Regions from separate parts of the Homo sapiens genome. Here region 1 is linked to region 2. The links come from fine-mapping of genetic effects on gene expression. Tissue or cell type: whole blood. Region 2 holds a variant in brackets; the other region holds the start of a gene. All regions are shown on one strand. Distances are between the middles of the regions. Region 1 holds the start of ZNF496 (zinc finger protein 496). Region 2 overlaps ZNF496-DT (ZNF496 divergent transcript).

Region 1 (15,301 bases), 28 kb before region 2:
ATGCATTATATTAATTAGCTTGACTTTTTTTTTTTTTAAGAGACTGGTCTCACTAGGTTGCCTAGGCTGGAACAGAACTCCTGAGCTCAAGGGATCCTCCCACCTCAGCCTCCTGAGTAGCTGGGACTACAGGTGTGCCACCATGCCCAGCTAAGTAGCTTGGTTTAATCATTTCACAATGTGTATAGATATCAAAACATTACACTGTACACTGTAAATACATACAATTTTTTTTTGTCAATTTGAAGACAGAAATTAAACAAAAAAGAAAAACTGTTACCACTGTAGGTACTCCTGAAAGAGCATTTGACACAGTGTCCTAAAGACCCTCATACAAAATGTAAAGTGTGGCTTTGGGACCATCTCACCAGCCTTATTTTGGGCTACCAGGGACTCTGCCACTCTTCTCTCCTGGAATTGGAAACTACCCTTTGTTCAGGCTTCTGCCATGAGCCACATCCCCTGCCAACAGTGCAGCCATGTAAAAATGAGCTCTGTTTCAAAAGGTACTCCTTTCTCAGATTAAGACTTGGAGAGCTGTGCTATAGTCTACTGGTTAACCCCAGGTCACATGTTAAGTCATTATCAAAGCAAACCCCAGAGGCCAGTGTCCCTGGCCTTTCAGACCTGGAATACAAAGCCTGCAGGAAACAGCAGCTGCAGGAGTGGCTATGTGGAACAAAGGACGGGGCCAGGAGCCCACACAGATGGCAGTGCCATTCTAGGGGTCTCAGTGGAAGGCAGCCTCTTCACTGTGTCTGAAGGGGAAGCTCAGGCTGGATGGGCGTAGATTTGAGGAGGTGGTATTTTTCTGTGTGTATGTTCCATTTTAAGTTTCTATCTTCATCTTTATTTAACTTACTTTTACCTCCCAGTTTTATTAAGCTATAATTGACAAAAATTGTATGTATTTTGTATACGAAAACTGTACAATGTGATAACTATACATTGTGAAATGATTAAATTAAGCTAATTAACAAATCTATACCTCATATATTTTTGTGACGAGAACATTTCTTATTTACTTTCTTAGCAATTTTCAAGTATAAGATGCATTATTTTTCATCAACCTCACCATGCTGTACCATAGATCTCCAGAATTTATTCATCTTACCTAACGGAAACTTTGTACTCTTTGACCGATGTCTCCCAGAGGGGGTGTTTTATTTTTTAGAGGTGGGTTCTCGCTATGTTGCCCAGGCTGGTCTCAAACTCCTGGCCTCAAGCAATCCTCCTGCTTCAGCCCCCTGAGTAGCTGGAACTATAGGCATGAGCCACCATGCCTGGCTAGGAGGTGGTGTTTTAGTTCTGCTTCCTCACACCTGCCACCTTCTGGGATATGTAGCTATCCCAGATATTCATATATATATGAATGGAGATGCCCCCTAACTGGGTAACCTGGCTAACTCCTTCCCATCCCTAGCCCTCCCTTCTCCAAGTTTAAAATCATGTTGGCCGGGCACAGTGGCTCACGCCTGTAATCCCAACACTTTGGGAGGCTGAGACATATGTATATATATATATACACACGCATATATATATATACACACACACACACATATATACACACACACACACATATATACACACACATATATATACACACACATATATATACATACATATATATATATACACACATATATATATATATATATGAATATGTAGTCCCACCCTACTTTTGGCCCCGATAAATGAATACATGGACCCTTTCAAGAATCACTTCGGAGAGTTGCAGACCCTACACAAAATCTAGCTTTTGGGGAAGATCTTCAAGATGAGGAACTATACAGCTCTGATAGGTAGTGCATTCCAATGATGAACTGTCCCAATAGTTAAGGTTTTCCTGATTGCTAACTCTCATCATACCTACTTTGCCTATTGATTATTGCTCATGGAAATGGGAGAGCTGGCCCTGTTTTCCTAAAGCCCATCTGTGGTTGCTGGCTTATCTCAGAACTTTATCAAGAAGCAACTGCACAGGCTACTGTAGTTCCTGAAACTTCTTCCTCTCCACCTGCATGCCTTCCCAGACCCCACTACAAGGCCTCTCACAGCCCCCCACTTCCTGCATAACCCAAGCTACTTGCACGTGCATTATGTGGGCGACTGGCTGCTTCCCTTATACCTGTTGTTACAGGCTAAGTTATGGCCCTCTCAAATTCCTATGTTGAAGCCCTAACCCTTAGGTACCTCAGAATGCGACTGAGTATTTGGAGATAGGGTCTTTAAAGAGGTCATTAAGATAAAATCAGGTCATATGGGTGGGCCCTAATCCAATAGGACTGGTGTACTTATAAGAAGAGGAGATTAAGACACAGACACACACAAAGGAAAGACCACATAAAGAGACCCAGAGAGAGAAGGTGTCTGTTACACCTGCTCTGCAAACTTCTCTTAGTGTAAACATCTTCCTCTTCCTTTCCCTGAAAGAAAACCGCCCGTCATCAAGAGTCCTGGCACAAAGCTTGTTGTCAGCTTTCAGGGCCGGATATTCATGGGTTTTTACGGGTCCCAAAGAGAGCCAGTGGCATAAGAGACTTCCCCTCCTAGCTCCTTTTTTTTTGTTTTGTTTTGAGATGGAGTTTTACTGTTTTTACCCAGGCTGGAATGCAATGGCGTGATCTCAGCTCACTGCAATCTCCGCCTCCCAGGTTCAAGTGATTCTCCTGCCTCAGCCTCCCGAAAAGCTGGAATTATAGGCACCCACCACCACACACAACTAATTTTGTATTTTTAGTAGCGATGGGGTTTCACCATCTTGGCCAGGCTGGTCTCGAACTCCTGACCTCAGGTGATCCGCCCGCCTTGGCCTCCCAAAGTGCTGGGATTACAGGCGTGAGCCACCGCGCCCAACCCCTAGCTCCTTCTAAATGTCTATCTGCAAACTTCTCTTAGTGTTAACATTAGGCATGTCTACAAGCCAAGGAGAGAGGCTTCAGAAGAACCCAAGGCTGCTGATACATTGACTTCAGACTTCCAGCCTCCTGAACTGTGAGAGAATACATTTCTGTTACATAAGGCATCCAGTCTGTGGTACTTTGTTATGGCAGCCAACAACACACCAAACTTGATTTATAAGCAAGAAAAGGCTGAAGAGTTTATGTGATTTGTACAGAAGTCAATATAGTTTTTCCACACACAGAAATTTAATAGGCATTTTGGTTTTATTACTGAAAAGCTTATCATAATGCCAAACACAACTTCTGCAAGTCATAAGAAAGTCTCCCCTGGCCCCCCAGACACTCTCTTTCCATTGTACCTATAGAGCACTATGGCAAGTCCACCCAGAGTCATAAGAAAGCCCCCCTGGCCCCCCAGACACTCTCTTTCCACTGTACATATAAAGCACCGTGGCAAGTCCACCCAGAGGAACCCACGGGCCAGACTTCCTTCAACCCAAGGGCGCTGGTTTCCCATGATATGTACTTAAAGTTTTGGGCACCTCAGGCCTTGTGTTCAACCTTTTGTAGGTTGTATCTCATTTAATTGTCCAAAAACCCCAAAAAAGGTAATTACTATCTCTGCTGGACAGAGGAAGAAACTGAGGCTTTCAGAGTTTAGAAACATGCCTCAGGTCATAACCAGAAGATTCAAATCTAAGTTTATCTGATGAAAAAACTACTTTCCTGTAGCTACCATGTACTTCATATACATACTCAAACTATGTGTAGCTGATGTTCTGGCCCCACACACTAGACACCACCCTGTGTCCTCCTAAGTATTTCTACATCTCTTCGCAGCATCACAATACTCCTGTAAACAGGAGTTGTTTAGCCAAGGAAACAGAGGTTCCAAGAGACAAGAAATGGCCATGCTCCAGTCATGCAGCAGGCCCCAGCTGTACACTGGCAGTCCCCAGCTGTCATCAAACTGACAAATCCTGCAGAGATGCACCCTCGAAGAGATGAGAGGGCACCACCTCAGTGACACCCACCTACAGAAGCGTTAGCTCTGAGAGGCTCTAGAACCATGAAGAGGACAAACATCCTGATGAGGTTCTCATTTAATTGCTCTAGGAAGGGACTCAGACCCTGACAACAGCTCACAGCACCTCGGGGACACGAGAACACTGCTGATGTAAAAGCCATCAGCTTAACAAAAACCACACCCAGTGCACAGTATGGGGTGTGCACTTCCCCAGATCACCCCTGCTACACTCCCCTGGGCTGCATACCTGGGTCCCCGCTGAGCTGGCTTGGTGGTCTGCTTGGGAGCCCCAGGCACTGTGCCAGGGTTATGGGCTGGGCATCCTGGTTCTTTGCAAGGTCGCTGTGGGGCTCTACCGGCAGCTGCTCCTGCTCCTGGTCCAGAGGGCTGTCCCCATCATCAATCACCACAGGGTCTTCACAGTGCTTGAGCTGCAATCCCAGAGACAGCTTTTCAGGGCTAGGGGAAGAGGTCCCATCTCTCCCTGGGCCTGGTGACCATCCACTCCACAGCTGACCATCAAAGGCTCAACTTAGGCCTTGGACTGGGCTGTAAAGGGGCACGACACTATCATGCCCAAATTAGAGCCTTCAGGGAGTAAAACTGGCTTTCTTAGGAAACTCTAGTCTGGACCTAACCAAAGTAAATGGCTCTCGATGGAACTCCTCATTCCCCAGCCAGCACATGCATGGCCCAGCCAAAGTGTCTAAGTACCAGATCTCTACCCGTCCCAGCCCCACCTCTTCTACTCACCCACTGCCAGGGTCTCCCGGGCTCCCGTTCCAGTGCCTCCACCGCGGCCACAGCCTGCTCTCCGCTCTCAGGCTCCTGCGCCCGCACCCAGCTCTGGATCTCCCGGGGCAGGATGGCCAGGAACTGCTCCAGCACCAGCAGCTCCAGAATCTGCTCCTTGGTGTGCCTCTCAGGCCGCAGCCAGCCCCCGCACAGGTCCCAGAGGCGCTGCAGGGCCTCCCGGGGGCCCGCCGCCTCCTGGTAGCGGAAACGGCGGAAGAGACGCCGAGAGGACTCGGGGCTGGGAAGCTCCCCCTGGGGGCTAGGGTTCTCTCCAGGTGGGCTCCTCATTTTCCTGGGCTCCTCACTTTCCTTCGGAGCCAAGACTCGGGGGCACAGGGCTGTGGGCATGATGGGATTTGATGGGGGTCAGCAGCAGAAGACGACCCTATTTCCAAACAGAAATCACTGGCTTCAGTGTTCTGGTCTCCTGTGGTCATTTCTGGGGGACAGTGACAAGGAAACTGTCAATGCCCTCAGAGACCAGCCCTTTGGAGAAGCCCTGGGAAAGGTAGGGAGTGTTGGTGTGGCTGGTCTTTACACACAGGATGAAACAGACAGAAAGATGCCCTCCCCCCATCAGTACCATTACGTGTGGATTCCCGTTAAGTGGGTGACTGGATGAACAAGACAGGAAATCTGGGAGAAAGTGGTGGCATTTCAACGTGACACTGCTGTTTTGAGCATCCCAGGAAACCAACAGCGCCACATGCAGATGTAATCAAGACGCTCTGGTACCTTGGGTGGCTGGGTCCTCCTGGAGAGATCCGAGATGGGCAGGCCAAGCAGGCCACTATCTTGAAGCTCCGGAGCCGAAGTCACTGTTCTTGTTATTAAGACCTTTACAAATGGAGCTGGAATGACAAAGACATGCATCGGATGAGCCTTCAAGCACATCCAGGAATGGAAAATCCACCCTTCTGGTGGCAGAGGGCTGATGGTGCTGCGTGCTGGATGGACAACCCAGCCAGAATCAGCTTTGCCCAGCAGAGTCTGCAATGGGAGGCAAGGGAAAACATCACATGAGACAGCTACATGCAGTCTACCAGGGACAAATAACACTGCATCTAGAAGTATCAGTGGTTTCCTATGAGCCTTCTGCCAATTCTGCCCTGACCTTCAACCTCGCCTCCACCCTATTCTCTATCCTTGCCCTCTTCAAACCACATTGAAGGCAACTGCACACTCGCCAAAGCCCTTCCTCGGCCAGGACAGAAAAGTGGGTCCGTCACTGCACAGCTCAGCCCTCAAAGAACCCCTGGACACTGCAGCTGCCACACCCCCAAGGTGGGACTCAGGGGTCCCTACACCTCCCCGCTGGTGTGCAGACAACTAGCCGACACTTTTGCCACAACTAGGGTGGCAAGAGACCAGCAACCAGTATACCTGGTGTTTATGATTCCCACTTTAGAACGCTGGGCCCGTGAAAGGGCACATGGGGACACTCACAGTCCCCTTCTCTGCCATCAGGCCTCTGTGATCCTTAGGACCGGCAGTGCCTGCCACTCCCCCATCTGCACGAGGTTGTCCAGCGTGGCCGCGTCTTAACCTCCAACAGCTCACAAGGTGGGAAGGGGGACTCGGGCCTCACTCCCATTTCACAGAAAGACAAGTGATGCCAGAAAAGCTACGGAACAACTGAGTGGTTCCAGAAACACCCACTGCTCTGAATCTCTTTGCTTTCCAAAGTAACAACATACACAGAAACCCATATGGGGGCCGTGGCGGCGTCGGGCTGGACGCATTACAGCGCTCCCCACCACCGGATCGCTTCCAGGGCGGCTCCGGCATCTGGAGCCCGGGGTGGGCCCCGCCCGCCCTGCTCGGCGGCCCCCTGCGGCGCCCATCACACACCTGCAGCGCCCAGGACTACTCAGGCCCGCCCCCCCGAGCACCGGCGCCCACCCGGGCTGCCACTCGGATCGTCTCCAACCAGACGGCCGCGTCCGTCTTTGTCACGGCGGCACCTGGCGCGTCGGAGGCTCGGAGGAGATGCCTGATGAATGAACTAACGTGAGTGAGGCGGAGGAGGGCCCCGCAGGGGCGGAGCGAGCTCCCAGCCTTTCGCGGAGGAGGGACCGAGCTGGATCGGCAGAAAGGGAAGGAGAAGGTCGCTGTGGGCCAGGGAAGGGGGAGCCCGCCCTCCGCGCCCTCGGTCTCCCTCACACGCGCGTCTCCCGTCTCGCCGGCTCCGGGCTCCTCACCTCACAGCCTGGAGCTCCCTCCCGGCGTCCGGCCGAAAACCCTCCTGTGGCGGCGGAAGTCCAGGGCAGCCGTCCTCATCCTCCCAGCCCGCCCGGCCGGGCGTACTCGCTGAGGCGGGGTCTCCGCAGGCGCCCGGCTCCTTTCCCGGCCCGTCCAGACCGCGTCTCCCGATCATCCGGAAAGCCACGGCTCGGCTCGGGGGCAAATGGAGGCGCCTGAAAAACAATGGTGTTGCTTTCTCCCCCGCCCGCACCTTCCTGAGCGCTGGGCTCTGGGCTGGGAGGCGGCGCCGCGGAGGCCGGGCGCGGGCCGAGGAGGGCGGGGCGGGGCCGGCCGCGGGAGCCGGGGTGCACTCACCGCCGCGGCGCGTCCCTGTTGGCGGGCGGCGCAGGCCTGGCCGCCGCGGGAGCCCGCCGGACGCCGAGGAAAGGAAAGGCCGGAGCCCTCCGGCTCCCTCCCCTGGGACACTTCCTGCTCCGCTCTAGGACTGGGGAGGTCTCCGCATCTCAGTGGTTCGCTCCCCCGCCCCCCGGCCGAGGTGTGCGCTGGGGGTGACATCCGACACCCCCGGCCCGCCCCGCTCCGCGCGCGCCTGGGCCTGGCCGCCGGGCCGGGGGCTTTGTGGGTCAGCCACGTCGCCGCGCCCGGGCTTCCCCGCGGGCCCGCCGGTCCGGAAGGTCGGCCCGGGGCTCTTTTCTCCGCTGTTCTCCTTCTCTGGCGCCCCCAGGACACGCGGCCAGTGGACGCCCGGAACGGCCGACCGGGAGTCGCGGCTGGGGATGGAAGCTGGAATTGGGGGTGCGGGATGGAGCGGAGAGAGGAGGCCCCGCGCGCCGTCGGCCGCCTCATTTCAGACTCCCCTGCGACCCCCCCCCCGCCGCCAGCCGAAGCCCGGGCCGCCCAGCCCCTCCTGCCGCTGCGGGACGCCGAAGGTAGCGCTCACATCCGCGCCTTCCGGGCCTGGCGCCCACGTGCGGAGTCCCCGGGTTAGGAAAGGCCGCGCATCCGGAGGCCACGCAGAGCCTCGGGGCTTGCGCAGAGGGGCTGCGGTGAGTCCTGACCCTGAGTGGGGGTCACGGGGCTCGTTGCTCGCTGAAGTGAACACGGTTGCAGCTGTGCACAGTGGCGGAGGGAGAGGATGAGGGACTCTGACCCAAGGTTATGTGGCAGTGAGGGGCAAGCAGAAATGGGGGCCTCCGGACCCCACCCCGAGACAGGGCTGCTGGCCGCTGCACTATGCTGAATATAGCCCAAATTCTTACATGGGTCGTCCCCGGGGAATGCTCATTTTTCAGGCTCCAGAGCTTGAGAGAAAGTGCGAACCCGGTCCCTGAGCAGGTCTGATTCCCATGGCCCCTTCGCCATCTGCTCTGCACCGAAATTGGATTCTCCTACGCAGAGGAGAAGGTGGAGAAGATTCTCCGTCTTCCGGAGGGTAGCTACTGCCGGTAGCTCCGATTTCCTTCGGATCCCCTTTCAAGGGCAAGCAGAAGGAAATCAGTTTCTCCAAAGAAAGTGGCCCGGCTGAGTAAGTGGGAACAAGGTGGTTGGACTGAGGCACGGGATCCTTTAGCTCCGTTGCTCTTCTAATCCCGTGGCCCTGGGCACCGCCACTTCCTCCTCTGAACTGCTGGAATAATCACTTCTGACTAGCAGAGTTACTGGGAGCCGCTGTTTGTCAGTGTTCACATTCTGACTTTAGCAGGAGATGGAGCGAGCGAAGGAGTGAAGCCCTTGTTTGTGAACAGTGATTGTTTCCCGGATGACAGCCAGATGCCGGGCAGGGCCACGCAGATCTTAGCTGGAGCCTACAGGTACAAGTGAGAGCCACCCCCTTTGACGTAACTGGACTGGCATTTACAGAACTCATGTACAGCCCACTCTCAGGAACACCAGCCAGGAACCGTGACATGGAGGAGAGGAATTGGGAGGAACCGAGGGGTCATCAAAGGCTGGTAGGGCTTAGGTGCTCTAGCAAACATCCTAGTCTGTGGGGTTCCAGAGCTCTGGTGCTACAGCTCCCAACCCTTTGATTGGCCCAGGAACTGGCTGTTGAGTGGGCATCCGTGTTCATAGCTCTGCCCCTTGCAACCCTAAAGCAGATAAAATGCAGGAGGCAGAAATTGCTGGCAGACAGCATCCAATTAATCCCCACTACCCAATTCAGTTTCTTCCCCTGACCTGACACGTCCCTGCCCAGCTGTGCCTCCCACTGTTCACCTTTTGAGGCACAAAACGGGCTGTTTATGCTGCTGCTGCATTTAGCTCAAAACAGGGCTTCAGAGTCAAGGTTCTGGACTCAGGCACCCGGATTAAATCCTGCCCTATGAATTCCTAGCCAGGTGACCTCAGGCCTACATAACCTTTCTGTACCTCAACTTCCTCATCCAGAAAACAGGGATGATGCTGTCTACCTCATTGGATGGTTGTGCAGGATCAAAGATTCAGTCATTCAGCAAACCTATACCGAGTACCTACTGTACACTCATGAGTGCTAGGCAGCCAGCCTTCCAGGTGCTCAGGTACATCTGTGAACACAACTGGCTATTGGAGGAAGCAAAATCAGTAACATGACCTGCTCTCTTTGATCTGTGCTACAGAAAAAAAGGAAAGTGGAGAGGCATCAGGAAGTCAGGAGTGCTGGGGAGGGGCTGGTAACAGTCATGGTATTAAAGAGGAGGGCAGGCAGGCCTTACTGTGAAGGTGGTATTTGAGATGAAGTAGTTGGTCAGAGTCCCTGTTTGACACATGGAGACCACCTTGACAGCAAAGGCCCTAAGGGGGAGCGGTGCGAAGCAAGGTGGGCTGGTGAGTGAGAGGAGAGGGATGGCATAGAGCTGGGTGGGGGCACAGGAGCCCGTGGGGAAGGTGTTCGCCTCTGAATGAAGTGGGGTTGTATCAGATACCACGGGTGAAGCATCGGGAAGAGGATCCTGCCTGTAAACCCTGCTCAAGGACTGCACCATCATCATGCCCAGTGTGTGCGTGTATTAGGTTTGTATGAATATAATGTTGCCAATTGTATCTGTTTTTATGAAATGTTTGCTATGTGCCAATGATTATTCGATCCATGGGGAGACCATAGAAGAATGATCCAAGGAGTTGGGAGGGGAATCAAATAATAAATCAGCGATTCTGCAATATAACGCCATTGGTGATCGGTGTCATGAAAGAAATACAACATGGTGGGGAAGAGTGTGCTGGGGATGTTCAGGTAGGGCCTCTGTCAGGAGGTGACATTTGAGTGGAGAGCAGGTGGGGGGCTCCTGAGCAGAGGTGTGTGGGAAGAGTATTCCAGCAGAGGAAACAGCGTGTGCTTGCTCAGCTGGGCAGAGGAATAGTGAGAGAATGGTGAGGCTGGAACCAGGTCACCAGATGTTATAGTCATTAGAGGGTTTCAAGTAGGAGTGTGGCCTAACGGAATCTTGATTTTATCAAGATCACTGTGCAGAACAGATGAAGCAGAGTCTCTGTTAGGAATCGTTGTAGAGATCCCGGCAGGAGATGCTCGGTTCCTGGAGTTGACTGGTGGAGGCACAGCTGGTGAACAGTAGGCCCAATCCAGGCTCTGTGTTGAAGGCATGCTGCCTGTGTTAGAGGAGTGAGGAACGGCTGTGACTGGGGCTGAAACTGGGTGACTGAACAGGCCTTCTAGAGATGGCAGATGCAAGGAAGCAGGTTTCCAGGAAGGGGTTGGGTTTGGGGTTGAATTGGTGGATTTGGGACTTGCTGGTTTTCAGATGCCCAGGAGACAAGTGGGGATGACCCTCTGGGATAGAAAGCTGTGGCTGGAGGTGGAAATCTGGAGTCACCGTATGTAGCAGGAGCTGGGGCTTGAGAGGGTTGAGTGTGTTTTGAGAAGCAGCCCCAGGGAGGGCAGACCCTGCGAAATGCCAGCCCTGGACCGTGGGAGCCCAAGGGGTTAGTGGAGGAGAAGGGAGAGAAGGGGAAGTAGGAGGAGGAAAGTGAGGGAGGACGAGGGCAAGAGAAGGGGGTAGGGAGAGCTGCTGCCGCCTTGAGATAAAAGGAAAATTGCAGGTGTGGAGCCCTGGAATCCAAGTGAGCACCTGTGTTTCAAGGAGAGAAAGAGGTCAGGGGGATAAATCCTGCGCCAAGATCAAATCCGATGAGGAAAGAACACTGCCCATTGAATCTGGTAGAGAGGCCCCTGAGCAAAGCAGACAGTGGAGCTCCTGGGCTAGGGCACTTTCTGGAAGAGAAGGGAGATGAGAGTGGACACAGCCCTGTGGAGAAAAACGGTCTCATCTTAAAGATGGGAGAAATTGCAGTGCATCGCCTGGAGGAGGGAGGGCTGGCACCCAGGGCCCACGGGGAGCCGGAGGGCAGGGAAGGCTGCCTCTGGACCTGAGGCATGTCCACAGCATCTGGGCAGGGAGAGCCTGGGGCAGGCTTCTTCCAACTTTGCCAACACTCCAGTAAAATAAGGAGCAAGTGTGACGTTTTATTTTATGAGGCAACTTGGCTAGCTGTGGTACTCAGTTTTTGTTCAAACACCAGTCTGGTGTTTCTGTGAGGCTGTTTTTTAGATATGATTAATAGTTAAATCTGTAGACTTTGAATGCAGCGGGTTACCCTCCATAGCGTGGGCGGGCTTCATCCAATCTGTCGAAGGCCGTAAGAGCAAAGACTGCAGTCTCCTGAGGAAGGAACTCCCCCTGCGGCGCGCCTTCCGACTTGCTGCAGCTTCGGCTTTCTGGATCTGCAGCCTGCCCTGCAGATTTTAGACTTGCAAGCCAATCAGTTCCTTAAAAGAAAACAGTCTCCCTCATCTCTCTCTATTGATCTCTAGCTCTCTATCCCCACCCCCTTCCCTCCCCCCACTCCACATGCTATTTGTTCCGTTTCTCTGGAGAACCCTGACTGCTACACAGGGCCCTTAAGTGACAGGGAGAAAGAGAGGGTGAAATGTGAGAGCAGGAGGAAGAGGGCGTGAGACGGCCATCTTGCAGAGTGGAAAGGTGAATGGACGATAACAAAGGAAAGGGTGAATTATATATAACCTGGAAAGTGAAGTGTGCACAAGGAAATGTGATGTGTAACCTAAAGCCCCAGTGCTTTGCAGGTGGGCAGCCGTTCCACTGTGACATCGCCCCCCAGGTGGGCAGCCGTTCCACTGTGACATCACCCCCTGCAGAGGAGGTCATCATTCCGCATAATATGCTTGTAGACTGATGACAAATACAGGTGTGCAAATATGTGAAGCCCCATCACTGGACCAACCACACCTGCCTTCTCTGGGAGCTGTCAGTACCCACAGGCCCCAACCACAGCTTGCGCGGCTAACCAGGCACCAGGGACTTGCATGCTTTTTGCAATGTGAGAAGCTCTGTTGTAAGCTGGGCATAGTAGATACTCAATAAACTGTGGCTTTAGGAACAGTCCTAGGAATAGTAGTGCTAGTTCTTACTGTGTTAGTCACAGACATCTAGGGGGCATGGACAGCAAGGCATTAATCTGGTCCCTTATTGTGGCCTGTGGAAAGGGGTCAGTGAGAAGCTGCTCAGTGAAACAGCTTTGCATGATGACATTTTCTCACTATAGAGGCCTCCCAGCTGTCACAGAGGCCTGTTCATCTATTTTATTTTTTCTTTTTTTGAAAGCAAAAACACTTTGAGATTTGCAGGTAGGCTGACATAACCCACTCTCAGGGGCTCCAGTGAAAGTACCTCTTTTAAGTGGCCAAGTTGTCACTAAAGAGATGACATCTTTTTCCTGGAAATCAGCGTTGGATGCTACAGTCAAGAAAATAAAGACCCCAAACATTGGTATTTGGAGCTATTCTTGAGCATTGGGTTGTTCATGTTTATTCAGCTGGACCATCAGGGACAAGCTTGTGCCTTGACAAATTCAGATTTGCAGAAATGACCAGATTTATCGTCTTGATTCAGTGAGCGGGGGAGGGCACCCAGAGGAGGCTGGAATATGGCTTGATAATGGGAGAAGTATTTTTGCGAGGTTTGCTCCGGATGGAGGAGGAGAAGGAGGAAGAGGGGGAGGGGAGGAGGAGGATGATGTCAGGTGTGATGTAAGTGTGGGAGTAAGTCTCCCTTGTGGGATCTTTAAGAATCACTCCCAAGTGGCTGCAGCAATTACAGTCCAAGAATGATATGAAAGTACAGGATTTATGCTGCTCCAAGGTCCTGGAGAGGGAGGCACCGCATGCGTGCAGGGCCGTGTTGGATGAGAGCCAAGGGCCCAGGCTCTGCAGTGCAGGTGGGGGGTCGAGAAAGAGAGAGAACCCGTGGGCAAGTACCTGTGTCGGGGGGTCAGGGTGGGGCACACAAGCAGAAGGTATGAGGGGATTTTACTGGTGCATTGGAATGTCGCTGGGTCACAGTCGGGGGAAGGCAAGAAGGGGACCTGGAGGCAGAGACCAGGCTTATCACACCAGTGTGCCTAGTTGCTTGGGGGACTCACAGCCTGTGTGTGATACTGAGGCCTCATGGAAGTATGAAGTTTTAATAATTGATAATGTATCAGGGAAGTGGGAGTCGCATCTGCACTGGTTGTTGTTTAGAGGGGGGCTCAGAAGAAGTAGGGGTTCACTGAGGGTGATGGGCCGTCAGGAGGCAAGGATGCCTTGGTTGTTGCGTTCCCCCAGTCATAAATGAGTGCAGCAAGTGGGTCTAGGGCGTTCTTGGTTAGAAAGCAGGAGTCCATCTGTCAAGCGGGCGTTGTGGCGTTTCGAAGCTTTGGCAAGACCTTGGGGAAAACCACGTGTCCTGTGAATGCACAGTGGGTTACTCGTCTGTCTTCTTAGCCTGATGAAAGGCAGGGCTGCCTGTTCTCTTTTCTCAGTCCTTACAGATCTTGTAGATTTTCTCACATTCGCTCCTGGAGAGGTTTTTTTTTGTTTTTGTTGCTGTTGTTGTTGTTGTTTTGAGAGAGTCTCGCTCTGTCCCCAGGCTGGAGTGCGGTGGCGCCATCTCGGCTCACTGCAACCTCTGCCTCCTGGGTTCAAGCGATTCTTCTGCCTCAGCCTCCTGAGTAGCTGGGATTACAGGTGCCCACCACAACGCCTGATTAATTTTTGTATTTTTAGTAGAGACGAGGTATCACCATGTTGGTCAGGCTGGTCTTGAACTCCTGACCTCGTGATCCACCTGCCTTGGCCTCCCAAAGTGCTGGGATTACAGGCGTGAGCCACCGCGCCCAGCCTGGAGAGGTTTTGATGCTCTTAGGAGGGAAACGCCTTGATGTTACAGTTCCGCAGATGTTTCCATGAATGTGAGTTTGATCCTTTGTGATCGTCTTTGTTGTCTGCTCCTTAAATGCATTGAATCCTAGCATCCTTGGAATTTCAGGAGGGAAACTGATGTTCAGAGAAAGAGGATAGTGGTCAGGGACCCAGTGTTACAGGGGTATGTGTGTGTGTCTGAATGAGGGAGGGATGGGGAAGTAGACTTTGTACGGAATATGTTCAGCATTTGCTAGGTATATTATCTGCATTGTATTGCCTAATTCTCACCACCATCCCGGGAAGTTGGAGCCCTGAGTAGTGTTTGGACTCTGCCTTCCAGAAAAGAAGGGTTTGCTGCAGGCCTCAAATGGGGTGATTGGTTCTTGGGTGAGTAAATACCAGAGTAAACTCCTCTGGTATTGTAGGACAGTGTTTTGGTCGATCTAGTAAAGGGGGAAAACATCCTTACTCACAGTTCTGGAATTTTATGTCCAGCTATTCCTTGTATGCCATGTCACTTAGGAAAATTTAAAAAGTATCTGGCTGGGTGTGGTGGCTCACACATGCCTATAATCCCAGCACTTTGAGAGACCAAGGCAGGAGGATCACTTGAGTCCAGAAGTTTGAGACCAGCCTAGGCAACATAGCAAGAACCCATCTCCACAAAAAATTTAAAAATTAGCTGGGCAAGGTGGCACATACTTGTAGTTCCAGCTACCTGGGAGGCTGAAGCAGGAAGATCACTTGAGCCGAGGAGGTGAGCTATGATTGTGCCACTGCACTCCAGCCTGGGCAACAGAGTGAAACCCTGTCTCAAACAAAACAAGTAAATATCAATTCTGTTCAGCTTCCTGCCACCTTACTCTTTCCATAGCATTTTCTGAAATTCAAGTCACCTCTGACAACTCCACATTTTTCTCCTCACATCTAGTATTTGCCAATTGATAAAAAGTCTGGGAGCCTCAATGTGTCTTAGATTTATTTTTTTCTGTGCAATCCCACTTAGAAACCCTAACCTATATCTTGATTTCACCTCATAGCATAGCACAGACCTCATCCTGGATCCCACACCCTGATGTGTGTCCTGATTCCAGCTCAGAGCACAGACCTTATCCTGGATCCCAGACCCTGTTATGTGTCCTGATTCCAGCTCAGCACATACCTCACCCCGGA
Region 2 (15,301 bases):
CCAGCTAATTGGGAGGCTGAGGTGGGAGGATCACCTGAGCCTGGGAGTTTGAGGCTGTAGTGAGCCATGATCGTCATAGGAACAGAAGGCAGAGAAATTCTGGGAGGGCAGTTCCCCAGCCAAGGCCCCACCTTCAATCTGAAAAGCCTGATACTGCCGCCCAAAGTGAGAACTTACATCCCTGTTTTCCCATTCAAATGGTGCCTTTTCCAAAACCACCTGTGGCCTGCTCTGTCCCCCATCCCGTGCCCATAAAAACCCCAGGCTCAACTGGCAGAGAGAGGGGAGGCAGCTGGACTTCGCAGACTGTGGTTGGATATGATTGAGAAGTGGCTTGACTTCAGAGGGACAGCTTGACAGCATAGCTTTAGAGAGGAGTCCAGCTGGGGATGGCCAGACTTCAAGGGAAGATTACCTTCCTGCTCCATCCCCTTTTCAGCTCCCTTTGCCACTGAGAGCCACTTTCATTGGCAATAAAATCCCCCACATTTACCATCTTTTCATTCATGTGACCTGATTCCTCCTGGACACCAGGCAAGAACTCAGGTGCCATGAGTGTGAGTGCAAAAGGCTGTCACACTGACCCTCCACTGAGCTGTTAACACTGAAGCTGGCCATGGACGGCAAAGCTAAAAGGGCACTGTAACACTTCTTCTGGGGCTTGAGGGATTGTGGGCACTCTCCCCTAAATGCTGCTGTGGGGCCGGTATGCAGTTCGCTTTTGCCAGCACCCAAAAGCACTCACTCAGGCTTCTGCACCTACTCACTGGTGCTCCCTCTCCGAGGAGTGGAGCAGTAGTGAATGGAGTTTGCCTCTGCTGGTGCCAAAGCAGCTGGCTGGTTCTAGCACCCGTGCGCCCCGGTTTCTGCCCACAAAAGGGTCAAGGAAATATCCTGCTTCAATTGTGTGAGAAAACATTTTCACTGGTCCATTTTCAAGGCCTGATAAATCTAAGCACTGGCAGCCAGTCTGTAAATGTAACAAACCACATGGCTCATGCACCCAGAAGGTCACAATAAGCAAACAGAATGTAGAGAAGGGGTCAGTCCATAAAAGGGAAGAAAGTTTCGTTATAGGGAAATCAAAACTTAAGTGGGAGCTGGGCGCAGTGGCTCACACCTGTAATCCCAGCATCTCGGAAGGCTGAGGCAGGTGGATCACCTGAGGTCAGGAGTTCGAGACTAGCCTGGCCAACATGGTGAAACCCCATCTCTACTAAAAATACAAAAATTAGCCAGGTGTAGTGGCAAGCGCCTGCAATCCCAGCTACTCAGGAGGCTGAGGCAGGAGAATTGCTTGAACCCAGGAGGCAGAGGTTACAGTTTGCCAAGATTGTGCCATTGCACTCCAGCCGGGGTGACAGAGTGAGATTCTGTCTCAAAAGAAAAAGAAAAGAAAAGAAAAAGAAAGAAGAAACTTAAGCAGGGAAGGAGACTGGGGTATAACCTTACAAGGAGGACAATGAAACTTAGATGACATCCGGGAAGATCGTAACCCCATAGTACTCGACCAATGAAGAACTAGCGGAGGGACTTGTGTGCTAGAAGATAAATTACCTGTTGTGACTGCCCCAGTTGTGCCTGCCCACCAGACACCTGATCTTGCAAGACCGTTACTAAATGTCTCCTTTTCACTGTTCTTCAGGCCTCTAAGTCCATTCTCTGGATTTGGACAGGTGAGTGTGTTTCTCACAAGCATGGGGGCCCATCTGGGATCCATGTGCCTGTGTGAAGTGGGACTTTGGCCGAGAGGGGAGATGTGTCCCACCTGATTTAGGTGGCCCGCTCTATCTGGGCATCCCAGCTTCCCATAGAAGGCATAAACAAACCCAAGACTATTATTCAGGAGGCAGCAGAAGCAACACAGGGAGAAAAGCAGGCACTGCGGGAACCAGGCAAACTCATGCACCAGCCAAGGAAGGAAAATTGGACTGTAAGTACTGCCTTGGTCATGGGGCATTTTTGGAGGTCTCGGGGTGTGCAAGAAACCTCCAGTAAGGGGGGTTGAGTAGACAGGGAAAAACTCAGACGCAGAGACTGGCAGAAAATGGGAAACAGGAATTCTAGGCCTGGGAGCCAAAGGAAAGAGGGAGCCAAAGAGACTCCGTCTGACATTCCCCTGGATAGTCCTTTGGGGAGATTGTTGCAGGTTTGGTGGAACAACCCTCGAACCAGGGACAAGGAAAAGGAAAAGATGATAAAGTATTGCTGTTTTGTCTGGCCCAAAGACCCCATTCATAAGCCTTCTGTCTTTTGGCCTAAGTTTGGCTCAGATGAGGATTGTGTTCTAAGCTTTAATTCTCTCTGTGAATAATAAAACTTCATCCTCACAAGAAGAGATAGGTTACTCTCTGCTGAATCAAGGAATTAGCCCCCATGATCCCCCTCAAAAAAGAAGAAAAAGAGCCTGGTGAAGAGCCCTCACCCAGTGAAAAGCCCTGGGACCCCCTATCGTGCTTGCCCCTTCATACGTCTCACAAAAAAGGGGACAGGAAGATCAAGGGGCAGCAGGAGGGTTAGAGGAAGAAAGACCCAGAGACTACAGGGGAGCCAAGCCAACTGCTCCTTTAAATCCTTATCCAAATTTAAGAAAAGAATTACAAGAGTGTAAGAGGGATATTGAGAACTTCCCTATCCCTTCCACACAGCAGGCATCTAGCATGTTCCCTCTTAGGGAAGTTCCCATGGGACAGGGAGAGATTGGCTTTGTAAACACTCCTCTTGCAAGTACTGAAGTTAGGAATTGCAAGAAGGAAATGAAACCACTCCTAGAAGATCCCCTGGGTTTAGCAGACCAGCTGGACCAATTCCTAGGACCCAGCTTTTACACTTGGGCTGAAATGATGTCTATCATGAATATCCTGTTCACGGGAGAAGAAAGGGGAATGATTAGGAGAGTGGCCATGACCAGTGGGGAGAAGCAACACCCTCCTGGGCAGTGAGACTTGCCAGCCAAACAAAAATTTCCAAATGTTGATCCCGAATGGGATAATAATGATCCCAGGGACTGGGCCCAAATGCAGGACCTCAGGAAACTAGTAATTCAAGGGATCAAAGAGTACACTCCTAGGACACAAAATGTCTCAAAGGCATTTGAGATTCAACAAGAAAAAGAGAAAACTCCCTTCACATTCCTGCAGAGGCTCAGAGATGAGAAAATACTCCAGATTAGATCCGGAGGACCCAGTAGGGCAAGGCCTGTTGCAGATTAACTTTGTTACTAAAAGCTGGCTTGACATTACAAAAAAAAAAATTACAAAAGATTGATGGATGGAATGAGAAACCGATTGAGGAATTACTGAGTGAAGCTCAGAAGGTCTTTGTGAAAAGAGGGGAAGAGAAGCAGAAACAGAAAGGGAACATCATGATTTCCACTGTGGAAGAGGTAGCCAAAAAAAGATTAGCTCAAGATCCCCCTCAAATGAGACAAGGGAATGATAGATTTCGACACAGAGAAAGAAAGGAAATGCAGGGGAAACCTCCTAAGACTATGAGTGGCTAGATGTTACAAGTGTGGAAAGCCAGGGCATCTTAAGAGAGAATGTCCTCAATGGAAAAAAGAAGAAGAGATGATCCCCCTCATGACCGTTGATGAATACAATGGGGGTCAGGGCTTCCTTCTGAGTAGGTCCCACCAAGAACCCTTGATAAATTGGAAGGCGGGACCTTAGGGAGAAGAAGTGACATTTTTGGTTGACACTGGGGCAGCTCACTCCTCCCTAATCCACAAACCAAAGGGTACAGAACTCTCTAAGGAAAAACTGAAAGTATTAGGCGTAAAAGGGGAGGGATTACAGGTTCTGATATTCAAGACAATGTTAATTAGACTGGGACCAGAACACATTGAGGGGTCACTCTTATATATTCCTGAAGCAGGAACTAACCTAGTGGGTAGAGACCTGATTGTGAGATTCAGTTTAGGATTAGGGATACACAGAAAGGACAAATGAAAGTAAGGATGGGCCTCCTAACAGAGGAGGAGGGAAGAAAAATTAGTCCCGTTTTGTGGTTTGGGAAAGGCAAGCGGGGACACTTAAGAATCACAGCCTTACAGATTGGACTAAAACAACCAGGAGGAGTTTGCAGAAAACAATATCCCATTTCTGTTGAAGGGAGAAAAGATCTCCAACCAGTAATAGAGGGATTAATTAAAAATGGACTGTTAGAACCCTGCATGTCACCATATAATACTTTTTTTTTTGAGATGGAGTTTCACTCTTGTCATCCAGGCTGGAGTGCAATGGCATGATCTCAGCTCACTGCACCCTCCACCTCCCGGGTTCAAGCAATTCTTCTGCCTCAGCCTCCTGAGTAGCTGGGTGCGTGCCACCACACCCAGCAAATTTCTTTTTGTAGTTTTAGTAGAGATGGGCTTTCACCACATTGGCCAGGCTGGTCTGGAACTCCTGACCTCAGGTAATCCACCCGCCTCAGCCTCCCAAAGTACTGGGATTACACGCTTGAGCCTGTGCCTGGCCAATACTCTAATTCTTTGTGTTGCTTATCTGGGAGGGAGAGATTCTGTGTCTATTCCCAGCCATCTTTTTGCAGCTGCAGGCATCTCCCACCGCCCCCCCATCCCAGTCAGCTTTAGCTTCCCTATCTTAATGTGCCTAAAGGGAAAGGAATGTGCTTATTAAGGCCCACTGTTTATACTGGGCCCGACTGTGGGAGTGTGAAGTTTGGTGTTTACCCAGGAGACATCCCCCGCCTCCTTCTATGCTTAAGTTGTTTATCTGTAGTTTATAGCCTGAACTTTCAGGCTACCCTTTGTTAAAAGAGAAGTGATTTCTTTGAACCGCACGAGATTAGAAAGGAAGCTATTTCAAGAGTGTTAAGGGGAATTATGGAAGGTTTACAAATTTGATGGGATTATCCCACCCCTTGGCATCCTGTGGAAAGGTAAAAAGAATAAACCAAACTCTCAAAAAGCATCTCACCAAACTAAACTTAGAAACTAAAGTGCCTTGGACCAAATATCTCCCATGGCTTTAGGATTAGGATTCGGACAGTCCCCAGAAAAGACTTGGGATTGTCCCCTACAAGTTATTATATGGACTCCCATATTTGGGCAGGGCTACAGATCCTCCCACTATGGAAACCAAAAACCAATTCTTAAGAAATGATATACTGGCCATATCTTCCACCCTGTCATCCCTCAGGTTAAAAGGTCTTCTGACGCAAGCTCTGCCTCTTGAGTTCATGGTTCACTACTTCCAGCCTGGCAACTTGGTGCTGACTAAGATTTGGAAAGAAGACAAGCTCCACCCAAGCTGGGAAGGTCCCTGTCAAGTGCCTCTGCCCCTGAGACAGCCCTGCGAACAGCTGAATGGGGGTGGACTCACTACACTGGAATCAAGAGGCCGGTAAAAGAGACCTGGAAAGGGAAGGAGAAAGAACAGTGGGAAGTGCATGGGTCACCTGACGAACACTTAAAGTTAACTCTGAGAAAAATTTAGAAAGAAAGCGTGGGCTGGCTGCATTTCTGAAAGGTAATAAGGCTGGGATGGGTTAGTATACAAAGAGCAGAAGGTCAAAATGGAAACTGGCAGGGGACTCCCCACTGCTCAATCAGGTTGGTGATTAATATGATTAAGACGGTAGCACCCCAAACTATAAGATTTGATGCCTGTCAGGTTTTACCTTGTGGGAATTTAGAAAATCAGAGACAGCTCTCGCAGGCAGATAAATCTCTTTGCCTTGAACCAGATGCAGGTTGCAGTAGGGCATCACCCTTCCCCAGCTGGGAGGATGTATGGTGCGCTACCCAATTTCAGGGTTGGACAGTAAACATGGTGTGGGTAACTCCAAACTGGAAACCCTTGAAGCATAAACTACCTCTGTCCAAGCGCTCCCCACCAAATAACTGCCAGAATTTAGAATGCCATCCTATACTCATCACCCTTGACAATTCAGCCTTTCTAGACCAAGAACCAAAAGTAGCATCTCAGGTATATGGGTTAGGAGAAGACATCACAAGGAAAGACCCCCAGGTCGATTTGATCTCAGGCTAATCAAGAACTCAACCTCCCATTTGCCTGGAACTACTCCAACCCCAGACCCTAATAAACACTTTAGTCTACCAAATATTAACCCTAAAATGGTAACAATAATTGAGGTAAAGGATTTAAGGCAAACCTTAGAAATTGAGACAGGGTATAGGGATGTGAATGCCTGGGTCAAATGGGTCATATTTTCGGTACAAGCCCTCAGCAAAAGTAACTGCTACGCGTGTGCTGCAGGACCACCTCAGGCGCAGGTGGTTCCGTTTCCCCTGGGATGGAATAGTGATTCTAGAGGAATGTGTTGCATGTTGGCTGCATACCAGCACAATGATATAAGTAAGGAGAAGTAAGACTTGTAAGAGTCTTTCATTGCTGTTTCCTGCATTGCGGAGCTCAGATCCCAGAGCAATACCCTCGTTCTCTGCAGAGAACATGAACTACTCCTCTTGCCTCTCTAGACAGGGGGCAGAGTTCCATAAGCCTATGGGAGAACTCTCAACTTGTACCCACATCCTAAACGTCACTGGTGAGTTGAGCAATGGCAATTACTCAGCTCTCCATACACCCCGGGCTGATGTCTGGTAGTATTATGGGAAAAGGAACCTACGTAACCTGTTACTGTCCAATGGGACCAGGACTTGTGCTTTAGTCTCATTGGCCATTCCCTTCACCCTGGCATCCCATAAGATACCCCAAAATACACATGGCCACTGAAACCAGAGAGATTTCACAAATTCTTTTAATCCCAATGTGTATGTTGACTCAATAGGAGACCCTGGTGGGGGTAGGGTTGCCTAATAAATTGAAGGCCTGAAACGCAGTAGGTGCTGGGTTTAAAGTCAGGACACTTCTGCTGGTCAACTATTAAGAAGAATGCGAATTAAATTAACTCCATCTATTATAATCAACAGGAATTCATCAATTATACTTGGGATGCCCTCAAAGGGTGGCTAGCCAGTTAGATGCCACCAGCTAAATGGCCTGGGAAAACAGACTTGCGCTAGACATGATACTAGAGAAAAAGGGAGCGTGTGTGTTATGCTGGGCGGGAAATTTTGTACTTTCATTCCCAGCAATACTGCCCCAAATGGGACCATCACAAAAGCTTTACAAGGACTAACAACTCTAGCCAACGAACTGGAAGAAATGCTCGGAATTAATGACCCATTTACGGGTTGGCTAGAAGGCTGATTTGGAAAATGGAAAGGAATGGTAGCTTCAATCCTTATATCTCTCATAATTGTGGCAGGATTCTTAATAGCAGTGGAATGTTGTATTATCCCTTGTGTGAGGGGACTAGCACAGAAATTAATTAAAACAGCTATTAATAAACAAATGCCCATGACTTACCAGCAAAATAACCTGCCACTATTAGAAAGCAAATTAAACTCACTCTCCTATGAGGAAGAAAGTAAACAACTTCTGGAGCGATTCACGGCCCAAAAGGGTTTAAAAGAAAATGAGAACAAAATAAGTAAATAGAAAAGAGGAGGGAATTGGTGAGAAAACCTTTTAAATGGTCCATTTGCAAGGCATGATAAGTCTAAGCACTGGCAGCCAGCCTGCAAATGTAAGAAACCACA[T/G]GGCTCATGCACCCAGAAGGTCACAGTAAGTGGACAGAATGTAGAGGTGTGGTCAGCTCATAAAAGGGAAGAAAGTTTTGTTATGGGGAAATCAAAACTTAAGTGGGGAAGAGGACGGGGTATAACTTTGTAAGGGGGATAATGAAAGTTAGGCGATGTCCGGGAAGATTGTAACCCCACAGTACTCAACCAGTGAGGAACTGGGGGAGGGACTTGTGTGCTAGGACATAAATTACCCGTTGTGACCGCCCTGGTTGTGCCTGCTCACCAGACACCCGATCTCGCAAGACCGTTATGAAAAGTCTCCCTTTCGCTGTTCTTTGTGCCTCTAAGTCCATTCTTTGGGTTTGGATGGGTGAGTGTGTTTCTCACAAATGCACCACTGCACCCCTGCCTAGGTGACAGAGACAGACTGTGTCTCAAAAAAATGAAAATATCAGGGAACTCAATGCAAAAGACTGCGGCGCTTTAGACTTGAGAGTAACCTGCCCATGACCCTTGGGGCTCCGTGAGGAAGACAAAAGACCCCCAAAAGGAGGGTGTATGGCACCTTTTTCTGGTTTCTCAAGGGGTCTCAGGACTGCTAGAAGTTCCCTCTTGATTTCTTCGTGTGTTATTGAAGGTGGCAGAAAGGAAGAAGGGCCAACAGTAAATGGGAAAACAATTCTTAGAGGGCTCAATTTGGGAAGATTTTAAACTTCCCAAAAAGGCCAAGGATGTTTTACATTTTTCTCAGTAAAAATCATGCCGACAACAACAACAACAAAAAAGTGAACAGATGGAAGGAACATAAAATTGCTTTTTAACAAAATTTCAGTTGACTGAAAAGAATTCCCAGGGTAGGAACAGGATCCAAAGAGAAAAAGCATTGCTCTATATATCTGCCAGGGAAAAATCCCCCAAAAACTAAAAGAAAAAAGAAAAAGCAGAAGGGTGTGTTGAAAATACACAAGCAGCAAGCTTTCTGTTTCATGAGCACGTGGCCTAACACTGGAGTGGAAAGAATTTCGGCTGTGGAGCGCTCCCACCCGCTCTGCTCATGGGAGGAGCCCTGCCTCTCTTCAGCTTCCCAGCAGTGGTGGGAGACACACGTCTCTTCTGCCCACGGGAGGAAGCGAGACAAAAGAAAAAAGTTGCTATCACACTCTAAATACAAACCAGTTTTCTATCAAAGGTATACCTGAACAAATGACTCAACGCCAAGTGAAATAAGCACCAAGGAGACCAGAACCAAGAAGCCTTTCACGGCTTTCACCAAGGTCTCCAGAGAGGAGGCAAAAGTTGCAACCCTGCTCAGATCCAGACCACTCCAGGCAGCTCAAATAAAGGAGAATTTTAGTAGCTGCAAATGGGGCTACTGTCTGGCCATATTATCTAGGGTTTCAGCCTCTCAGCTGGCTGACTGCACACAAAGGCCTGACAACCCGTATCTCCCACAGACGGAAGATTGCATGGCAGTTTGTAAGATGGGAAGTCAAAAGCTGTCTGTGGGAATAGACAGGATTGCAAAGTGAAAGGGTACCCCAAAAGGTCAGAGTTATGCAAATACCAAACTAACTTTTTACAAATGTTTCTATTTGTTTTGTCCTGAGTTAAAAGATTTGCATTTCCAAGAGTCTGGTTTCCTGACTGGGAATCAAATCCAGGCTGTGGTGGTGAAAGCATGGAACCCAGGCCCTAGATTAGGGTGGCCCGTCTTCTTTGTAAATCCCAGGGGGATCCAAAACAGGCAGCTTGGGCGCACTATATATATATATATATATATATATATATATATATATATATATATATGTGACATATATATTATATATGTGACATATATATTATATATGTGATATATATATTATATATGTGACATATATATTATATGTGATATATATTATACATATATAACATATACATGTTAGAAATATATATTTTTTATATCATATATATATATTTGTTTGAGACAAAGTCTCGTTCTGTCACCCAGGCTGGCGTGCAGTGTGGTGTGCTCATGGTTTACTGCAGCCTCAACCTCCTAGGCTCAAGCAGTCCTCCTGCCTACCCCTGGCTGAGTAGCTGGGACCACAGGCGTGTGTCACGATGCCTGACTCATTTATTTGTTTATTTATTTTGTAGAGATGGGATCTCCCTATGTTGCCCAGTCTGTTCTCAAACTCCTAGGCTCAAGCAAGCCTTCCTTGACCTCCCGAAGTGTTGGGATTACAGGCATAAATCAGTGAATCCAGCTACACAAAGGATTTATAACTTAGTTGTAAATCTGATTTCTGCCTTAAAAAAAGAAATCCTGCTAAGGGAGTTTCTAAGGCTATATATTCCTTTTGTGTCTTTTCATAGGTACCAATAAGAAAGCTGTTTAAGACAAGAGCTCTTAGTGGCCGGGCGCGGTGGCTCACATCTGTAATCCCAGCACTTTGGGAGGCTGAGGCAGATGGATCACCTGAGGTCAGCAGTTCGAGGCCAGCTAGCCAAGATGGTGAAACCCTGTCTCCACTAAAAATACAAAAAAAAAAAAAAAAAAATTACCTGGGCATAGTGGTGCGCACCTGTAATCTCAGCCACTGGGGAGGCTGAGGCAGGAGAATTGCTTGAACCCGGGAGGCTGAAGTTGCAGTGAGCAGAGATTGCGCCACTGCAGTCCAGCCTGGGCGACAGAGTGAGACCTTGTCTCAAAAAAAAAAAAAAAAGAGACAAGAGCTCTCTAAAAAGTTTTCTTTTAAAATATAACTTTTTAACTTATTTATTATGTTTTTTCAAAATTTCAACTTTTATTTTAGATTCAGGGGATACATGTGTGGATTTGTTACATGGGTATATTGCATGATGCTGAGGTTTGGGGTGCAAAGCATCCTTTCACCCAGGTAGTGAGGATAGTACCCGATAGGTACTTTTTCAACTCTTGTCCCCCTCTCCCTCCACCTCTCCCCTTCTCCTCTCCCCCTCTCTCTCTCTCCCCTTCTCCTCTCCCCCTCTCTCACTCTCCCCTTCTCCTCTCCCCTCTCTCACTCTCCCCTTCTCCTCTCCCCTCTCTCACTCTCCCCTTCTCCTCTCCCCCTCTCTCTCTCTCCCCTTCTCCTCTCCCCCTCTCTCACTCTCCCCTTCTCCTCTCCCCTCTCTCACTCTCCTACTTTCCTACTCTCCCTGCTCTAGCAGGTCCCAGTGACTATTGTTTCCATCTTTATGTCCATGTGTATCCAACGTTTAGCTTCCGCTTATAAGTGAGAATGTGGCCGGGTGCGGTGGCTCACGCCTGTAATCCCAGCACTTTGGGAGGCAAAGGCAGGCGGATCACCTGAGATTGGGAGTTCAAGACCAGCCTGACCAACATGGAGAAACCTTGTCTCTACTAAAAATACAAAACTAGCCAGGCGTAGTGGCGCATGCCTGTAGTCCCAGCTAGTTGGGAGGCTGAGGCAGGAGAATCACTTGAACCTGGGAGGCCGAGGTTGCAGTGAGCCGAGATCACACCATTGTACTCCAGCCTGGGTAACAAGAGTGAAACTCCGTCTCAAAAAAAAGAAAAAAAATGTGAGAACATGCAGTATTTGATTTTCTGTTTCTGCGTTAGTTCACTTAAGATAATGGCCTCCAGCTGCATCCACATTGCTGCAAAGAACACAGTTTTGTTGCTTTTTATGGCTGTGTCGTATTCCGTAGTGTATACGTACCACATTTTATCCAATCCACTGTTGATGGGCACCTAGGTTGATTCCAGCCAATTTATTTATTCCATAAGTGACTCAAACCAATAATCATTTTTTTATGGAAAGTTCTGGAGGTAGCTTTCCAGGTTTAGAAGAGCATAGGTGTTTGTGGTGTATTTAAAATGAATGGGCCGGGTGCGGTGGCTCACGCCTGTAATCCCAGCAATTTGGGAGGCCGAAGCAGGCGGATCACAAGGTCAGGAGATCGAGACCATATTGGCTAACATGGTGAAACCCCATCTCTACTAAAAGTACAAAAAATCAGCTGGGCATGGTGGCAGGCGCCTGTAGTCCCAGCTACTCGGGAGGCTGAGGCAGGAGAATGGCGTGAACCCAGGAGGCGGAGTTTACAGTGAGCCGAGATCATGCCACTGCACTCCAGCCTGGGAGACAGAGCGAGACTCTATCTCAAAAAATAAAATAAAATAAATAAAATAAAATGAGTGCAGAAGATGCACCCCCTCCTATGATCCTTCCCAAAAAACACATTCTCAGAAATAGGCTAAGATAGCCGGGCCTGGTGGCTCACACCTGTATCCTAGCACTTTGGGAGGCTGAGGCAGGTAGGTCACCTGAGGTCAGGAGTTCAAGACCAGCCTGGCCAACATGGTGAAACCCCATCTCTACTGAAAATAACAAAAAATTAGCCAGATGTGGTGGCGCATGCCTGTAATCCCAGCTACTTAGGAGATTGAGGCAGGAGAATCACTTGAACCTGGGAGGCAGAGGTTGCAGTGAGCCGAGATCATGCCACTGCACTCCAGCCTGGTGACAGAGCGAGACTCTGTCTCAAAAAAGAAATAGGCTAAGCTAGCAAGAGGCTTGCTGCCATAGACAGCTAAGGATGGTGTTTACTCATGGGGTGCCTTAAGTATCCCACAAATTTGTGAGAGGCTGCCAGCCACAGACCTGTTAATCTGTGATAACTCCTGTGATTGGACTTTCCCAGGACTAACAGGGACAAACAAGCATTGCCATGACAAAAGTCCCTTATGTATGGGACTTAATACAAATGACCTTGAGTGCTCGGCACATTCAGAGCAGAGTGTGCTGCTTAGTATCTTACTTGTCAGGGGGTTCCCAGTCTTTTTAGACTGGTGATGTGGTTTGGCTGTGCCCCCACCCAAATCTCCACTTGAATTGTATCCCCCAGATTTCCCACGTATTGTGGGAGGGACCCAGGGGGAGGTAATTGAATCATAGGGGGCTGGTCTTTCCCATGCTATTCTCATGATAGTGAATAAGTCTCATGGGATCTGATGGGTTTATCAGGGGTTTCTGCTTCTGTTTCTTCCTCATTTTCTCTTGCCGCCGCCATGGAAGACATGCCTTTCGCCCTCCGCCATGATTCTGAGGCCTCCCCAACCATGCGGAACTGTAAGTCCTATTAAATCTCTTTTTCTTCTCAGTCTCGGGTATGTCTTTGTAAGCAGCATGAAAACAGACTAATATAGTAAATTGGTACCAGTAGAGGGGGGCATTGCTGAAAAGATGCCTGAAAATGTGGAAGCAACTTTGGAACTGGGTAACAGGCAGAGGTTGGAGGGCTCAGAAGAAGCAGGAAAATGTGGGAAAGTTTGGAACTACCTAGAGACTTGTTGAATGGCTTTGACGAAAGTACTGATAGTGATATGAACAATAAGGTCTAGGCTGATGTGGTCTCAGATGGAGATGAGGAACTTGTTGGGAACTGGCTGTTGCCCAGACTGGAGTGCAGTGGTGCCATCTCGGCTCACTGCAACCTCCGCCTCCTAAGTTCAAGCAATTCTCCTGCCTCTGCCTCCCGAGTACCTGGGATTACAGGTGTGCGCCACCATTCCCCGCTAATTTTTCTATTTTTAGTAGAGACTGTGTTTTGCCATGTTAGCCAGGCTGTTTTCAAACTCCTGACCTCAGGTGATCCACCCACGTTGGCCTCCCAAAGTGCAGGGATTACAGGCGTGAGCCACCGAGTCTGGCTGACTCTTGTTATGTTTTAGCAAAGAGAATGAAGGCACTTTGCCCCTGCCCTAGAGATTTGTGGAACTTTGAACTTGAGAGAGATGGTTTAGGGTATCTGATGGAAAAAATTTCTAAGCAGCAAAGCATTCCAGAGGTGACTTGGGTGCTGCTAAAAGCCTTCAGTTTTAAAAGGGAAACAGAGCATGAAAGTTTGGAAAATTCGTGGCCTGACAATGTAAGAGAAAAGAAAAACCCATTTTCTGGGGAGAAATTCAAGCTGGCTACAGAAATTTGCAAGTAAGTAGCAAGGAGCCTAATGTTAATCCCCAAGACCATGGGGAAAATGTCTCCAGGCCATGTCAGAGACCTTTATGGCAGCCCCTCCCATCACAGGCCTGGAGGCCCAGAGGAAAAAGTGGTTTTGTGGGCTAGGCCCAGTGTCTCCAGGCTGTGTGCAGCCTGGGGACTTGGTGCCCTGTGTCCCAGCTGAAAGAGACCAATGTACAGCTCAGGCTGTGGCTTCAGAGGGTAGAAGAGGGTGGAAGCCCCAAGCTTTGGCAGCTTCCATGTGGTGTTGAGCCTGTGGGTGCACAGAAGTCAAGAATTGAGGTTTGAGAACCTCTGCCTAGATTTCAAAGGGCATATGGAAATGCCTGGATGCCCAGGCAGAAGTTTGCTGCAGGGGTGGGGCCCCGATGGAGAACCTATGCTAGGGCAATGCAGAAGGGAAATGTGGGGTGGGAGCCCCCACACAGAGTCCCTACTGGGGCACCACCTAGTGAAGCTGTGAGAAAAGGGCTACCATCCTCCAGACCTCAGAATGCTAGATCCACCAACACCTTCCACCATGCACCTGGAAAAGCTGCAGACACTCAACACCATCCTATGAAAGCAGCCGGGAGGGAGGCTGTATCCTGCAAAGCCACAGAGGCAGAGCTGCCCAAGACCATGGGAACCCACCACTTGCAGTAGTGTGACCTGGATGTGAGACCTGGAGTCAAAGGAGATCATTTTGGGAGCTTTAAAATTTGACTGCCTTGCTGGATTTCAGACTTGAATGGGCCCTGTAACCCCTTTGTTTTGGCCAATTTCCCCCATTTGGAACGGCTGTATTCACCCAATACCAGTACCCCCATTGTATCTAGGAAGTAACCAGTTGACTTTTGATTTTACAGGCTCATAGGTGGAAGGGACTTTCCTTTTCTCAGATGAGGCTTTGGACTATGGACTTTTGGGTTAATGCTGAAATGAGTTAAGACTTTGGGGGACTGTTGGGAAGGCATGATTGGTTTTGAAATGTGAGGACATGAGATTTGGAGCCACCAGGGGTGGAATGATATGGTTTTGCCATGCCTCTACCCAAATCTTAACTTGAATTGTACCTCTCAGATTTCCCACATGTTGTGGGAGGGACCCAAGGGGAAGTAATTGAATCACGGGGGCTGGTCTTTTCAATGCTATTCTCGTGATAGTGAATAAGTCTCACAAGATCTGATGGATTTATCAGGGGTTTCTACTTTTGCTTCTTCCTCATTTTCTCTTGCTGCTGCCATGTAAGAAGTGGCTTTTGCCCTTTGCCATGATTCTGAGGCTTCCCCAGCCCATGTGGAACTGTAAGTCCAATTAAACCTCTTTTTCTTCCCAGTCTTGGGTATGTCTTTGTAAGCAGAGTGAAAATGGACTAATACAACTGACCAACACACATGACCCAAAAGTCCCAAAAGTCATGCCACTCCCCCAACCACTCCCCGGGTTGGTAGAGACCAAGCAAGAGTGCTCCCCACTTGGTCACAAGTCAGGCTCTTGAGAGCCTGACATAAAAGATATTAAGCAAGATGAGAGGGAATCTTTATGACAGCAAGACAGAGACACAGGAAAAAAAAGAATGTTTCTGAAAGGAAAAAGATCAGACAACATGAAATAGTCATACCAAAAATAAACCAGCGTTTGTGTGTCTAAAATTAGCCTGTATAAATGCTTTTCTTGGCTGGGTGCAGTGGCTCACCCTGTAATTCCAGTACTTTGGGAGGCCAAGGCAGGAGGATTCCTTGAGTCCAGATGTCAG

The links. PIP is the estimated chance that this variant, and not a neighbour inherited with it, causes the effect.
Region 1: ZNF496 starts here. The variant in region 2 is fine-mapped to the expression of ZNF496 in whole blood (TOPMed, PIP above 0.99).

Annotation. Positions count from the first base shown.
Region 1 is chr1:247,324,506-247,339,806 of GRCh38, forward strand. ZNF496 (zinc finger protein 496) reads right to left here and starts at 7,362. Exons shown (of 10, transcript NM_032752.3): 1 at 7,285-7,362; 2 at 6,927-7,142; 3 at 5,461-5,576; 4 at 4,684-5,110; 5 at 4,178-4,361. The coding sequence starts at 5,073. It overlaps ZNF496-DT (ZNF496 divergent transcript), which reads left to right and starts at 7,549. Exons shown (of 3, transcript NR_168399.1): 1 at 7,549-8,741. It overlaps LOC124904574 (a long non-coding RNA gene), which reads right to left and starts at 12,231. Exons shown (of 2, transcript XR_007067004.1): 1 at 11,949-12,231; 2 at 11,370-11,659. RefSeq lists enhancers at 4,353-4,855, 7,242-7,536, 11,308-11,808 and silencers at 6,400-6,639, 7,210-7,319, 7,450-7,929, 9,042-9,336, 12,962-13,256.
Region 2 is chr1:247,352,612-247,367,912 of GRCh38, forward strand. All of the region lies in intron 1 of ZNF496-DT (ZNF496 divergent transcript), which reads left to right. Among named protein-coding and RNA genes, the nearest start is that of ZNF496-DT, 28 kb to the left of the region's middle. RefSeq lists enhancers at 5,119-5,418, 10,023-10,567. The variant T/G (reference allele first, on the strand shown) is at 7,589.